Regions from separate parts of the Homo sapiens genome. Here region 2 is linked to region 1. The links come from fine-mapping of genetic effects on gene expression. Tissue or cell type: visceral fat. Region 1 holds a variant in brackets; the other region holds the start of a gene. All regions are shown on one strand. Distances are between the middles of the regions.

Region 1 (8,202 bases):
GCCAGTGAGACAGCTTAGTAGAAGCTATCTGTCAATTTCAGTAGGGCTGGCGTGCTCAGGGAAGGTAGATGAAATGTTCTGAGGGTCCTATGGATGCACTCCACCTCTAAAGTAGCAAGCAAAACCAGGCTGCAGGATAACTGAATCTTGCAAAAACATCCGAGTCTTGACGTGGAAGGAAGTTGCAATAGTGGGAGCATAGGTGTGGTTGGAAGTGATTACAGACAAGAGGAGTTTTTCCAAATTATTTTCCTGGAGACCTTTATGATGACAGGATAGTATCACGTGCAATATTCTAGGTTCCATCAGCAGCAGTGGGCTACAAACCAAAGGACTGTCACCTCAGGTCGGCTGTGAGGCATAAGCAGATGAAGTTACATCAGTGCTTGCATCGTCTGAGACATCCAGAGATAGGAAGGGTATACAACCTAGTTTGCCTGTGATAGTCCCATTTTATGCCTATTGTTCCTGTGAAATTAACACTGCCCTCTTGCACTCCCAAAAGTGTTCCAGTTTGGATGATAAATTATATGGTCACACTACCCATCAACAGCATTAACAGGAGGAGCAGAATCTTCAGATAGACATGGATGGTAGGTACATAGAAATTCTTACAATAGTCTCCAGACTTCTGTATTTAAAAAAAAAAAAAAAACTTTTCAAAATAAAAGGAAATATGAAAAACAAATACACTTGAAAAATTCAAACTACCCTATGATTAAGCATAGCACATAATTATTTCAGACCTCAGTTGCCTACCTAAATTGTTTCTCTGCTCTTATTTTTTTAGATTATAGTTTAACCATATCCATTTGTCTAATGAGATCAGCCATTTGTCTGCAGCATGTAAGCAACAGGAGCAAATTCAATGTCATCTGTTTATTTAAGATGTAAATGATATGCATGTAGCACAGTAGCCTTTGGGTACAAATGAAGTATCATTCAATGTCACCGGAGAAATATAAATCAGCAAGAAGGAACAAACACTAAAGGTTTCATCAGCACATCTTTGTTGTGCTCCTTTTATGTGCCAGGCACTACTCTAGGTACTTGGGATAGGATTGAGCGAAACAAAATCCCTGCCGTCGTGAAGCATATATATTCTAGTGTAAAACTCCCCGTGGGGAGAGATGATACCCAAGTCCTATAAGACCCCCAACTTCAATCTGATATTTTCAGTAAATCCACACACCGCAAGCCCCTTTATACAAATATGTTCTGTAAAGTTTTGTTTTGTTTTTTTCTTTTTCGTCGTGTGTTTCTGAGGTCAAGGGGTTATATAAGAAACATACATGGCCGGGTGCGGTGGCTCACGCCTGTAATCCCAGCACTTTGGGAGACCAGGACGGGTGAATCACCTGATGTCAGGAGTTCGAGACCATCCTGGCCAACATGGTGAAACCCCATCTCTACTAAAAATACAAAGAATTACCCAGACGTGGTGGTGAGCAACTGTAATTCCAGCTACTCGGGAGGCTGAAGCAGGAGAATCGCTTGAACCCAGGAGGCAGAGGTTGCAGTGAGTCGAGATCATGCCATTGCACCGCAGCCTGGGCAACAAAAGCAAAAATACTCCGTCTCAAAAAAGAAAAAAAAGACACATACATGATGCAAAAGATGCTATTTTGACTGATGAAAGTCTTCTCCCTTTTCACATCTGTTTTCTTCATCTCCAGCTGTTTGCGCATGCTTGTCATTGGTGATGGGCTTGTGGCTTCTTTCTGAGGTTTCTGTTGTAAATATCTGGCATTCACTGGGTTTTACTGTTTAGTACTGGTCGGAGTTTTGTTGCTTTTCTAGACTGCTTTGTCATGTTTGACCCCCGACTTTGCTACCTCATCACCATCTCCTGCTGTGAGTTGACCACGTTTAAGCCTAATACCAGAAAGCAAATTTATCAATATCCAAATGTCCAAAGCACAGAGATTAGGGGATAAAGTCTTTACTTTTCCAGAAGAACTCTCATTAGGGGACAATTTTCTGAGCCCAGGATTTAAATCTGGGCTGATCCACTTACTAAATTTGTGGCCATGGACAAGTTATTTAAGCTCCTAGAGGCTCAGCTTCCTCACGCGCAGATGGAGGGGTAATATCTACCTCCCTGATTTGCTGTGAGGGTTAAATAAGATGATAGATTGTAGCATTCTTTGCACAATGTCCGGCACTTAGCAAGCACTTAGTACCTTTTAGTTTCCTTCTTTTACCCCTACCATCTTTTCCTGCCTAGACTGGATTCCTTTAATTGATGTGCACAGTTATCTAACTAGAGAGCTAACCTGCAGATGATGGGACAATTTTCAAACTTGGAGCTTATACTGGGATTAAGGAGGGCCAACTTTAAACACATACTACCCAGCTGTTCCCTTCAAATATTTGTACTGATCCATGCTTCTAACCCCATTTACCCCTTAGTCTTTCAGCAAAGATGAGAGCAAAAATCGGTCACCTTTACATTTCATTGAATATACTTTTCAAGAAAAATGGAGGAAGTTTCACTATTTAAAGGAAAAGAAAGTTGAAGTAGACAAGACACAACAGAAGATAGAAATGGGGTTTTCTGTTTGTTCATTTTGTCTTTGCTATCAGACATTTACTGGGTACCACCTGTGTTTCAGAGACTGTACAGAGCAATTTACATTCAATTTCTGATTTATCCTTCAACAATCCTAATGAGATGGGTACTATTATTGGCCCCATTTTACAGATGAATAAGCTGAGGCAAGGGATAGCCATTACATAATAGCTTAGTGTCCAGGATCACACATCTCCTTAGTGCCAAAGCTGGGATTTGAGCCTAGGCAGTCTGATTCCATCATGCCAAACCATGCCACCAACATCAGCACCTCCCAGAAGGGTCGAGGCCTTTGCAAGCCGAGTCATAGAAACTATCATAGTTTGACCTTTTGCCCTGTGAGACCTCTTTTCAGATCAGGAAAGGGAGGGCAGTGGCTGAAATGCTCCTGTGATTTTTAAGGGCAGTAGCTTTGTATGAGAACCTTGAGAACAGAGAAGAATTATTGTCAGGAAGAAATGCACTGTCCTATAATACGTTATTTTATGAATTACAGGTACTCATCCTTGGTAAGGCTTATGGTCCATCATTAAGGAGAGCTGTTACCATATCATTAGGTGGAACTTTCTTCTTATTTTTTCTTTCATCAGCCATAATTTCCATTGTTCTCAAGTTCAGTGCCCATTAGAAACATAGCAAATCCTTTCAAAGAAAAAATGTTACCAAAGAGCTCATCTGATGAAGACATTTGTATATTTTTTGATTTAACAGTATTATTATTCAGTTTCAAATATCTTGGGGATGTGGGTTATATGGCATTTTGATTTTTTTCATAAGTTAAAACGACGGGAATGAGAAGATTTCTGAGATCCTTCCTAGCCCAAAACTGTTGTCTTTTTTCTAAAATCCTGCCCTGATACCACCAAACTGTCTCTTGGAAACCAAACAAAATTGTCTGATAGCCCCCTCAGGAAGCTCAGGTTCTGACAGGACTCTTGGGGAGGAGGAGAGGCAGGAGGGGAAAGAACAAACACTGACGAAAGCTCAGGTAGGTGACTCACATAAAATTGCCGCTATTCAACTACTTTTTAACCTATAGAAATGGCAATTTCATATGGTTTAACCTAATACTAAATGCCAGGCCAGACACCTTTTATAGGTAATCATAATGACTTTATGAGGTAAGGATTATTCCCATAATTCAGATAACAAAACTGAATTAAAAATCTAAATTCACTGTCTTAGTTGGACCTCCCCCAGAAGCTAACCTGGAGTCAAGCACTTCATGAGAGTACAATATTTGGAAGATAATCCCAGGAAGCACTGAGAAGAGAACAGCATCATGAGGCAGGGAAGAAAAGCCGTCGGCTATGGAGGCATTGTCAAGCCAGCTACTCTGTGGGCAACTGGAGTTTAATCCTGCTGGGGAACTCTGGGAAACAGTGAGGAACACATGTTGTAGGGTTATCCCATTTAGGAGGACATGTGAGCTGGGCTGTTCATACACAGACTGTCTTTAGTCATAGGTCCAGCCTGCTTAGAATTGAGATAGTATGTTAGTGCCCCAGTATTTCCACATCAGGCTGGAAATAGATATGATATGTGCACTGAAGTGGTAAGGATGAGGGGATATGCGCAGGGCCCAGCTGTGTTATGAACAGAGGCAGGATTTGAACTTGTGGCATTCTAACCTCATAACCCATGTCCCTCCCACAAAAGCACAAGATATTGTCAAGTCGGGAAGGATTAGGGGCTCCAGGACTCAATTGTAGATTATGTTTGGAAGCTGTAAGACCACTCACCAGAGGAGCTAGCATCCATGCTTCCTGCTGTATAATAATACAATTGTATTTGTGTAGCTCTCAAAAGTTGACAAAATGCATGCACACTCATCATCTCATTTGGCTTTCATCATGCCCATGATGAGACAAACTAAAGTCCCTTTACTCATGAGATTATTATATTCATGTGTTTACTTCACAATTGTTATGTGTTCCAGGCACTGTTCTAGTTAATGGAAATGTAGAGGTGGACCAAACAGAAACACATTCTGGCATGACAGAACTCATATTTGAATGGGGGCAGCAGAATAAAAACAGAGATGATGATAATGTCATGTCATGATGGTACCATGAAAAAATTAAAACAAGAAAAGATGATGGTGATGGGCAAACATACTAGTGTTTTTTTTTTTTTAAATTAGGGGTGAGCTCAGGAAAGATGATTGCATTTAAGCAGGGAAGTAAAGGCAGTGAGAACAGAAGTTTTTTAAGTGTCTGGAAGAAGAATGTCCCAGGCAGAATCAAGAGCAAGACGAGCACTGCAATGTGAGAATAGCGAGATGGGAGTCCAGAGAAGAGAGGTCAGCAAGGAGAATGTTTCATGTCAGGCGCCAAAGTCAATGCTCTGAGCATGATGAGGAACTCTAGGGGAATTTAAAGCAGGGAAGTGACGTGTTTTCATAGGTTCATTGTTTTGTTTATCTCTAAGTCATGTGGTCAGCAAAACCCAGAACCAGGACTAAAATTGAAGCCTTCTGACTCCTGATACAGTGCTCCTCCCATTCAGGTCCATGGTTGGTCATTCTCTAGACCTGAATGTCCTTGGCAT[G/C]CTGTTTTTCCTGTTCCTGGCATGGTTATTTGTGGTCTGCTAATCAAATCTTGTAACAGCTGTTGCCTGTTCCCAAGCCCAAACATTTGGTTCCTTGGGACTTTCCTTTGCCATTTGTCCAGCCAATCAGCTTTAACATTCTCCTGTTTCTGTGAGCATCGGGTCCTCTTAGAGCTATCCAACAAAACTCTTCACCCACAAGCTAGCTCAACTACAGCTTAAGCTTGACCATGAAACTCAAGTGAGGATTTAGGGAATTTAAAAATAGCCACTCTATCAGCCACTCTAAACATTCTAATCAGAAAGTTCAACTTTACAGACTGCCAAGTATCTTCATAATATGAAGGATTTTTTCACAAATCAAGACCAAGTGAAATTTTCTCCCAGACTACGGGAATAAAGAGATTGTTGAACCTGTGGTTCACTGTACTGACTGTCTTATCCATACCAGTGTGGAGTCAGGCAGAAGTTGCAATGAGATACTGCAATTGCATTTTCCTTCACCATCACTATTTTTTGTTTCTAAAATCTCAGATTTCTCTGCTTCAAATCTAAAGCTGCCTTGTTTTTTCAGCCAAGCCTGCAAAGACAAACTCAGCTTGTTTGGAGAGTTACAATAAGGGCTGTCTTGGCTGCTTTTCAGTGTCAGTACCCGCAATAAGAGTGTTTACCACCTTGTAGAGTAAGGAGCAAAACAGAACTATTCAACTCTCCCAGACCTGCACTAGCATTGCATTACTGACAGAGGTAACCATTTGTCTTTTGTCACTGGAGCAGGTGAGCATGGCACCAGGCACACATGTGCAGAGGAAGTGTGTGGATAGATAGTCACTTGTTTGGCTATATCCACAGCTTAAATTTGGTGTCCTCTGGAAATGTAATATTTCAAAGGCAGGATGATATTTCTGTTCACTTATTAAGGGATGACTAACTTGCTTTTGGCTGCACTACAAATGAATCACGGTAACAATCCCTAACTTGCGACTTCTGGTGTTCTGATGTAATGCATTTCTATTAAAAGAAGAGGAAAGAGAGTGGGTGAGAGTGAGATCATGCAAAGACAGAACATAACACCAAGGGAGCTAGCGTAATTTATGAACTGCTGCAGCCAGATCCATCCACTTCAAGGTGTTTTCTTGCGTCCTGAGTGAGGATACCTTGCCAGTTAGCACCTGCCCATTTACAGTTGCAGAATATAGACCCAGATCAAGACATGTAGTTTGGAGGGATTCAGTGAAGGGAACATTTTATTTAGGGGTGAAAACCAGATATTCCTTGAAAGCATTTTTAAGCAGTTTTGATTGTGTCACTTGGAAGGTAATATTTGGGGACGGATGATATAGGTTAAGAAGTCAAATCATAATCTTCCTTTTTACATTTTTTTAATGTATGCAGCTTATTTGGGAGTAGAAGAAGTGGGAAGGGGGTGGAAACGTGAGACAAGGAAGGGAAGACAGCCTATAAAGGGGGTGTCATCAGGCTAACTCCCACTGGAGGTGACTGGAGCTCCATCCTGCTGCGACATGGGGAACCCATACGAACTCCGAGTCTTCCCTCACAGATGAGATTGCTTGGGGACTGTTTGAGGCTGACCCCAGAGCATGTTAATTGCCCTGCATGGGCAGAGTGGCCTTCCTCCTTCCCTCCTCCCTTTTCAACAAGAAACAAATACAAAAAAAAAAAAAAAAAAAAAAAAAAAAACCCAAAACCCTGCAAGGTATTGTATAAGATCCTCTAAACCCACAGGTATTTTTCCTGTGTTAATCACCACTCAGGAGCAGATACATCCTTCCTCCCTTCTGTACTGTCCTCTGCAAAGTGTCCCTGCTGTCTTCTGAGGAAGATCTGAGTGTGCCAAGGAGAGGCAGAGAGGAAATTAGACTCTGGCCTGTCGTGACCAAGCAGCCCACACTGGCTTTGTCCCAGGATCTGGCAGAAGGGGATTATAAGAGCCAACGCCTCCCCAGAATGGGAAATCACTCAGAGAGGGAAATCTTTTTTTTTTTTTTTTCCAGTAAACCTATATTCTTTACCGTTTTCCTTCTGGGTTTCATCTATCAGATCGGATTGCCCTGAAAAAGAACTTCAGTGTGTCAGAAAAGCATACCTCAAGTAGCCGTAATAATGTTCAATTTGATATTTATTAAGTTAACTTTCTCTCACCTGGTGTCTGATTATGTAGTTTGTGGATATCACTCATCTTAGAATTATGTAGTGTTAAAACTGGAAGGGTCTGTCCTTAAATATTAGCTAGACCAACACCCTTTTTAACTGATAAATATGAGAACTGAAGTTTCAGACTTAAAGAAGCAGAGTGGGATTCCTGAAGTTTCTGACACTCTTAAGGTAGGTAGTGGAAGCGACACTGGAAGCCAAAACTTTTTCTTACTGGATTCCATTGTGCCCCAGGACCTTTTTTCTTAGGAAGCCTGTCTTTGAAAAGCTTTATTTAGCAACACCAGAGGCTGGATGGAGATTAAGAAAAATCGTTAAACTCTAAACCCATCCCCTTCGTTACCTGTTAATACTGCCATGTAATGTTGCTGCTGTCTGAACATGAGTTTAGCTGTTTGGATTATTTCTGGTCTCTCTTATTGGACCCCAGATCTCCAATTGTGGCCATCCCATAGCTCAATCATATCCACTGCCAGTCACTTGAAGCAGGTGGGCTGACAATTCTTTTTTTTTTTTTTTTTTTTGAGACGGAGTCTCGTTCTGTCGCCCAGGCGGGAGTGCTGTGGCGCGATCTCCGCTCACTGCAAGCTCCGCCTTCCGGGTTCACGCCATTCTCCTGCCTCAGCCTCCCATGTAGCTGGGATAACAGGCGCACACACCACCACGCCCGGCTAATTTTTTGTATTTTTAGTAGAGACGGGGTTTCACCGTGGTCTCGATCTCCTGACCTCGTGATCCGCCCGCCTCGGCCTCCCAAAGTGCTGGGATTACAGGCGTGAGCCACCGCGCCGCCCGGCCGGGCTGACAATTCTTTATCCACCCCCAAGTTGTCTTCATGCTCACTGCTGAATTTGTTGGTGTATGCTAAGTGTCCTGCTGTGGAGTAAGACTTGAGAATCAGGTCT
Region 2 (8,176 bases), 36 kb before region 1:
GCAATTCTATGGGGTTGGTACTATTGTTATTCCCATTTTTCAGAAGAGAAAAATTGTGCCATAAAAAAGTAAAGTTACCCACTGCATTTTAGCTAATAAATAGTGGAGCAAGGATTCAACTCAGTGGCTACAGAACCAAAAGCCTCAACTTCTACATTATATTGCCTATGTGTACAATAAATGATCGACAAAGGTTGAAAGGTAGTGTGAGTACACCGATACAGGTGTTTTTGTTTCCTTCTTTTTCTTGTTCTTACTTTCCAAATTGTCTAAAATTAATATGTATTAATTTTAAATCAGAAAAGGTAACAATTTATTAACGTACTGGTGAAAGCTCTGATCACAAAGTCATTGGCCCAAATGCAAACCCAAGTCGTTGGTGGAGGCAATGCTCCCCAGAACTTCTACAAAAAGAGAAGAAAAATCGGGGGGAGGCAACACCCTTCCTGCACTCTTACGTGTGGGCTCTCTTTCTCTCTCGCCCCTCTCTCTCGCCCCTCTCTCTCTCCCCTCTCTTTCGCCTCTCTCTTCCCCCTCTCTCTCCTCTCTCTTTCCTCTCTCCTCACTCTCACTCTCTCTGCTGCTCCAATTCAATTTAGACAACACTAACGGGATTGCCTGCAGTAAAAGGTGGCCCAAGGTCCACACTTAGTTGGTTCTGTCTCCAAATTGAAACATACAGGTTAGAAGCTCCTCCAAATATACATAAGGACAGTTAGGAATAGAGTTGGGAGGACTAGAAACAAATGCCTTGGTCCCAAAGGAAAGGCCTTTTCTGTGTGGGAGGACAACACTCTCGCCCTGGCCAGCTGAGCAATGCAGTTTCTCCCGCTCTAAGATTCAGCCCAGGCACTGAGGGAGGGCACTCTGTTCTTCAGCCCTTGTGAGGGCTGACATTAAAAGGCCGGAAATTCTAGGGACGAGGGCGAACCGAGGTTGGAAGGGAGCCAATCGGAGGGTCAAAGACTTCAGAATGAAAACAGCTTCGCCAAAATGTTAAAGGCACCTAAGCAGACCTGTCGGCTGGTTTTCCTTCTCTTACTTTTATCCCTGCGCTGGCATCGGGGCACATGAAACAGCTCTGTTCATTCCCTGTGCAGCGACCGATTTTAGGCCTCCTGAGAAGTGCCCACCCACTAGCTGCCGCTGGCTCAGTCGCAAAGAGCTGGGTTCGCAGTATTTCCCACCGCCACCCCTCCTCCCCGCCCTTCCATCTTTCCGTCTGCCCGGGCTGAGAGCCACGCAGGGCATCCACCCTGTCATTTAGCACCTCGGCTACGCAATGGTGGGTGGTTTCCCAAAGCGCGTGCCCTCGCAGCCACTCGCGCTCGCCTCGCCGCTTGCAGGGGCACAAGTCAATGAGGCTTTTCCCTCCGCGATCATGGTGAATCAGCAAAGCGCTGCAGAGCAGCGGCACCTCCACGAGCAGAAATTAAGATGCTGGGGGAACGGCACGAGTGGAGTGTGGCAGGGGAATTTCTAGCCCCTTCCAATGTGTCCCTCCCAGGGACGGCGATACTGGGGGAGGGGAGTCAGCTGGAAGCTGCTGGACTTAGGCGTCGCGGGGAGCCTCTGGAAACAGAGCAGTGTAGGGAATAACGAAGATGAGCACAGAAAGTGGACGAGAAATGGGTGGAAGGATCTAGGGAGCACAAGCAGAGCAGGGCAGGTGCGCCCCCGGGGTGGGCAGCGCAGCAGGAGCAGGTGTTGCTGAGGAAAGGTAGGAAGGAAGTCCGGTATGGGGGAAGGGAGGAGATCATCAAATAAGGAGGATTTCCCAAACCGCGACTTGCTGTTTCCAACGTGCAAGTTCCCAAGTTCAGTTTGAGAAGTGAAGGGCCGCTAGGTGTAGGGGAGTCTGGAATGGGAACGTTAGGGAAATGCCTCCCCGAGGCGCATTCTCCTACCCATTCTCCTCTTTCTTCCCCCCCCCCCACTCCCCTTCCTCTTCCTGTCCCTATTCGTCTTCCTTCAGCTTTGATTAATATGCATGTCTATGCTCCGTAGTGCGGGCCACCGCCTCCCGTTCGACCCCTGGCACTGGGAGACTGAGCTGTAGCGACCAAAGGCTTGGGATGGGGAGGCTGAGCGCTCAGAGCGCGGAGTCTGAGGACCCCTCGCCGCGCCCTGTATCCCACCCCCCTGGCTGGAGAGAGCGCCTCAGTGACCCAGACTCCGAGATCCCGCTCGGTCTGCGTTGCAGTGGACAGACCCAGGAGCTTGGAGCGCGAAATGAAACGCGCTAAATTGTACCTGTGCGTGGCCGTTCCCGCCGCCGCCGCAGGTCTATCCCGGGGCCGAAGCCGGCGCCCGCCTTCTCGGGGAATTCTCCGGAGGGGGAGTGCGAGGGGAACCACGGTGACTGCCTGCTAGCTCACGGCTGGCGCGCACACGCACACGCCCAACTTTGCCAAGCCGTCGGCGCCCCGCGGGCTCCCCCGCGCCCCCTGCGGCTCAACACGCTCGGAGACCTGTATCTCTCCTGCTCTGAGATAAGGTTCCCTCCACTCTCACACCTTCGCATGTAGGGGAGGAGAGGGCGGAGTGAGGCAGAGAAGGGGGTTAATGCTACTGACTCCCTGGCCAGCCTTTCTCAAACACTCTACGCCCGCAGGGGCGCCCGCGCCAGCCACGCCGCACCAGGTCCCCCAGACCTGCTGGTGACGACAGAGAGAGGAGGAGGAAGAGAAGGCAGGGCGAAGAACCGGGAGCCGGGGAGCCCCGGAGCTCGGGAGCCCGGGAGCCCAGGCGACGGACAGTTCCATCGACTGACCGTCATTATCAGCACTTTTATTACTAAAGGACTGGGTGGGAGGTTGGGGGGTGTGCAACAGAGCTGGCCAGCCCCAATCCACTCTGGAGCGACCCTAAATTAGAGCCACAGAGAAAGATTCTCCACGGATACCTTTTGAGTGGACGTGCTCCAGACACACACCCGGACCCCGTGGTCCCGCCGAAGCTGCAGTGTTGGGGGTATTTTAAACGGTTCTTATTTGGAAGGAGGCGTGATTTCCACGTTCGAGCGTCTTCGCTCCCCACCCCCTCTCGGCACCAGCCAGTGCGCGCCACCACCTGAGCCTGGCGAGAGCCGGGACGCACGCAGTCTTCAGCCTGCTCCTTTAAGCCTCTGGAGAGACTCGGCTCTGAGCGGGTCCGCCCGACACCCGCCCCCTCCCCCCACTCCTGAGAACTCTTTACTTTTTGTTTGGAAAATCGGGGCCATTTCTTTATTTATCTCTGGGTCTTCCCGGAGGAGGGCAGAGAAGGGGAGAGCGAGCTTGGCGGGCCGGACCGGGGGAGGGGAGCGAAGGGAGGGGAGGGGACTGGGTGTAGCCTGGAATTCTCCGTCCTCGTGTTCCTGGGCGGGCGCGCAGAGTCTCCTGGCGATAGCGCCGTCGCCGCTCCCCGCGCCACCCCGTCGTTGGCCTTGGGGGTCGGGTGAGTGGGGTCATGACGAGCCGCGGGGGCTGCCCCGGGCCCCGCCCGCGCTGAGAGGGGACGCGGCCGCGCGGCGCGGAGCCCCCCTGGCGGGGAGGCCGCGGGGGGTGGGGAGGGCGCACGCGGTAGGGCGGAGTGGGGGCGGCGCAGAGGCCGCCAAGCTGGGGGGCTCTCCGGGAGGGCGCGGCCGCGGGCAGGAGGGCGTGTCTCCGGCTCGAGGGGACCCTCCCGAGGCGCGGCGCGGGACTCCCCGATGGTGGTGCCGCGGCTCCGGGAGAGCTCAGGGTCTCGCCGCCGCCGCCGTCGCCGCCGCCGCGGGCGCCGCTGCCGCCGCCGCCGCCGCCGCCGCCGCCGCCGCCCGAACCCGCGCCGAGCGTGCGCCTCGCCCTCCTCCCGCGCCCGCTCTGCTCTAGGATGCTGCGGCAGGTTCTGCACAGGGGCTTGAGGACGTGTTTCTCCCGGCTCGGCCACTTCATTGCCAGTCACCCTGTCTTCTTCGCCTCGGCGCCGGTGCTCATCTCCATCCTGCTCGGCGCCAGCTTCAGCCGCTACCAGGTCGAGGAGAGCGTGGAGCACCTGCTGGCGCCCCAGCACAGCCTGGCCAAGATCGAGCGCAACCTCGTTAACAGCCTCTTCCCGGTCAACCGCTCCAAGCACCGTCTCTACTCGGACCTGCAGACCCCCGGGCGCTACGGCCGGGTCATCGTCACCTCCTTCCAGAAAGCCAACATGCTGGACCAGCATCACACCGACCTGATCTTAAAGGTGAGAGGGGACGGGTGCGGGCAGACTCCGCCAGCGCCGCGGCCGCGGTCGGGCTGGCTCTGCGCTGGGGTCCCGGCTGAGAGCGCCACCTCTCCTAGCCCAGGCAGCTGCCGCAGGGACTCTCCTGCACCGCGCGCCCCAGGGCGGCCGACTGGAGCCTCCCAGCCTCCTGGACAAGGAGCGTCGGGGTCCGGGTCCGGCCCTGCCCGCGTCGCCTCTACCGCCACCCCGCAGCTGCTGCAACAGTTGGGGCGGCGGCGGCCACAGTGCTGTGGTCGGTGCGCTTGTTTTGGTCGCAGTGGGCTTGGGGGTGGGGAGGCTTTGGGGTAACTGGGCCAGCAAGGAGCAGAACGAGAGAAGACATTCTGGAAAGTCCTACTACTTGAGAACAAAATACTATGCTTGGAGGGGATTCCGAGATACCCCTCCCTGTCCTCAGTTTTGTTTCTCCCTTTTTCTGGCCCCCCGGAGTGTTTGGGGAACGGTTGTTGGTGTGGGATGTTGGGAAAGGACAAAAGAATGTGAGGCGGGATGGTGATGAAGATGCCTCCCACCCACCCAGAAAGAAGTGTGGTCTCTGGCGAGGACAGGGGGCTGCCCTGCTGCTCTCTTCTCCGGAGCGAGGTAGCCATCTCTATCTTCTAGGGTATGAAATTATGTTTGTAATTCGCAGTTCCTTCGTCTTTCACAGTAGCTCCTCAAGAAATGCCAAAACTTTGGGAAAAGAGGGAACCGATCAATCCACTTTTATTTGGGTGCATCTGAGCATGGGGGTGAGGGGCAGAGCCCGAAGGGTGAGAACAGAAGCCAGGCTGTGTGACCCCGAGAAGAGCACAGGAAACCGAGCAGCTGGTTAGAGGGTGACACTCGCAGAAACCGGTTGTGCCATCAGCTTGAGGTGGGAATTTGATGTGGAAAGTGAGGTTAATGGTGGTAACTTTCAGGAACTTCCTAAGAAAAGCAGAGGAGTGAGGACTAGAGATGGAAAAGTGGAGACCTCGGGAGAGAAAAGTAAAAATAGGTGAGAATGTTCCATCTGAATCCCTGATGGGGACTGTGGGGCTTGTTTACTTAAGGTTCTCCTTTGGGGAGGGCAGACAAGAACCAGTCCCAGCTGGGACTCTGGTGCAGAGGGATGGAAGGTGATCGTTTTGTGTGAGTCTCTAGTCCAGATCTGGTACTAGAGGCTGGTTAGATTTCTAGTCTACTTATCCCAAGGGGAGTCTGCCGGGAAACCTGGGGAACTCTTTCCTCTTCTTTTCCTCTACAGGTAATAGTTTATCCCTAGAGACAAGCTAATTTTCATTATTTTCCTATGTCCGTTTGTTGACATGTTATCAATTAGCAATTAGTAATGAGGGGAATCTGACTAGGGGCTCAATGGAATTAGGATCTTCCCACATGGAGTGGCTCATGATATTTTTAATGGCACACATCACACATTTACTCATCACAGAACCTTAATAACATTAATCCCGAGATGTTTGTTTTTCTCATGATTAGACTTCCAGCATCAAAGTGGTTTTCTTTTTTCTCTCAATACTTTAGTGACTATATTTTGGGACACAGATAAATACTGCTCCAAAAGCTTTCCCACGAAAACACATAGTAGATTCATCATGGGCATAAGGAAACTGTAATTTAACCAGTTCTGACAGTTGGAAATGCCCCGTCTTTTGATTGATGATCTACTAAATGATATTTCTCTTTTTGTGTTTTTTCAAGGTGACGTTTCCATTGCCTTTCCCCCCCCACCCACAAACCATCACACCACTGTGACAGGCAGTCACCAGTTACAGTCACTCTCAAGGTTAATGAGACATCAACAAGCATTATCAGATCTCTTTTCAACTGGATTACTTCTTCCCTATTTGATTTTGATCAGTTCAGGACAGAAAACAGTGCTATAGGAGAAGGTTGAGACTGGAGAGACGGAGGCTTGGTTTGCCTCCATATCTAAAGGGCAACTTTAAAGGACAATGGTCAAAAATCAGTGGATTGTTTTAAGAACTGGGATGGTTTTTCATCTTCTAGGTGTCTGAGTAAAATCAAAACCAAGCCTAGCAGTGGTCCGAACTTATTTCTAGCTGATGACTCTCTGGTCAAATGAGTTCATACAGCTTATAAAAATCCAGACTTACGGAACCAAGGAAATAACTGTCTTCAATTTTAAATTATATGTTTAATTTTTTCTTTCTGCATCCAGCCCCTACTTTTGGTAGATATGGAGCCAGGGGACAGGAAGATGGACCTTCATTAGTCATGGTAATGTAAAGTGTGGGAGTGAGCACTTTTTTTTTTTTAATTTTTTTCATTTAGAGACATGATGACTTGTCCTTTAGGAAAGGTGTCAGGAGTGAAAGAATCACTGTTATTGTTGTTACTAGTGTTATTCTGATGCTTCGTTACTGGCATCAAGGATAGCATTGACAGTTAACACTACACAACACCCAACAGTCCCTGCCCCCTGCCGGTTTTATGGCGTCACATTTGAAATGAAGTGAAGTGGACAGAGCATGAGCAGGTCTGAGGCTTTTTCATACCCCAGTACAGAACTGAGGAGGTGACTTGTAGGGCTGTGTAGGGTGTTGCTTCAAGCATGAAGAGTAGACCCATTCTCTCCTCTTAATGTTTTGGGATTGTACCTGTGCAGTGAAGGAGATCCTTCTTGGGATATTGGTCCCACTATTTGCTGACAAAAAAAAAATAGACTGGGAGGGAGTGATGACAGAAAACGAAAAGCCAGGTTGACGTTTTTAAATGTAATTGAGAGTATTACAGAAAAATATCTGTATTTCAAAAATCCAGCTGATCTGGTTTGGAGGAGCTTTCTCGAATATGCGCAAGTGATATGATTACCATACTCTGACCACTGTAGCTTAGAAGTTGACCCCACACTGTGAGGCATGACTCCCCCCAGCGTTGGTTTCCCCTGAAGGCTACAGGGCAACGATGCATTATTAGGCAAAAGTGGGTAGGACCTGGTGGTGCTGATAAGGGCTCATGCAGTAATTTCTGAACCTCTTTACATACATGCTGCTCTTCAAACATCTTCCTTTTCCTAGAAAATTAAATTTAGCTGATTATATCTTTTAACAGAAGATCCATGATGTTCATCTCAAAGCAAATTTCAAAGGAGGGCCTCACAAGCTTTTATAGATACGTTTCGTTGCGATCACCTAAAATGAAGTGTAAGTAGGTCCCTTTGATAATTGATCCAGGCTGTTAACAAAACAATTCTTGATTTATTCCGGAATCATCTATTTAAAGTGAAGAATCAGTACAGCCCAGTACTTATGATAATGACATCATCTTTATAGGACTTTATAGGTTAGAAATATACAGTATGTTTAAATACAGTAAATTGGGAAAAATGCTATATCCCATTTTACATATGAGAAAACTACTTCTTAGAAGTTAACTGACTTGTCCATGGGAAAAAATACAAGGCTAGAACCAGGACTGGACTGGACCCAGGGTTTTGGACTCCAAGCCCAGTGTGCTTTTCATTGTAATTTACTTTCATATGATACACTACTGGAATGATTTAAAATGTACATTTTTGTTATCCAAATGAAGTACAGTTGACCAAAGTTTTATATCCCATCCCATCCAGTTGTTCTAATAGTGGTAATTGGATCATAAGAATATTTTTCTTGACTGATTCTGTCTAGTGTCAATTAAAATCCACATACAGAAACTCCAAATACCCAAAGTAAAGCATAAGATATTTATAATTAACAATATACAAGGATAGAAAGAAGATTTTTTTGGAAAAAAAATCTCTGGATGATTGAATGTAGCTGCTTCCTGATTGAGTGCTGCTCATTGGCAGGGTCCAGGTTGACTGAACTTTAGTGCCTTACACACTCCCTGGCACATAATAGCTACTCAATAAATACTTGTTGAATAGACCCTCCCTAGTTTACTCAGACATTTATGTGATGAGTTAAAGAAAATTCCATAAAAACGA

Which allele goes with the higher level. Alleles are on the strand shown, and positions count from the first base shown. SD is a standard deviation of normalised expression in the study named.
As copies of C replace G in region 1, the expression in visceral fat of the gene that starts at base 3,826 in region 2 goes down (small effect, 0.24 SD a copy in GTEx).

Evidence for each region. PIP is the estimated chance that this variant, and not a neighbour inherited with it, causes the effect.
Region 2: PTCHD1 starts here. The variant in region 1 is fine-mapped to the expression of PTCHD1 in visceral fat (GTEx, PIP 0.98).

Annotation. Positions count from the first base shown.
Region 1 is chrX:23,367,487-23,375,688 of GRCh38, forward strand. The region is part of intron 1 of PTCHD1 (patched domain containing 1); the gene reads left to right. Among named protein-coding and RNA genes, the nearest start is that of PTCHD1, 37 kb to the left of the region's middle. The variant G/C (reference allele first, on the strand shown) is at 5,123.
Region 2 is chrX:23,331,024-23,339,199 of GRCh38, forward strand. It overlaps PTCHD1 (patched domain containing 1), which reads left to right and starts at 3,826. Exons shown (of 3, transcript NM_173495.3): 1 at 3,826-4,203. The coding sequence starts at 3,853.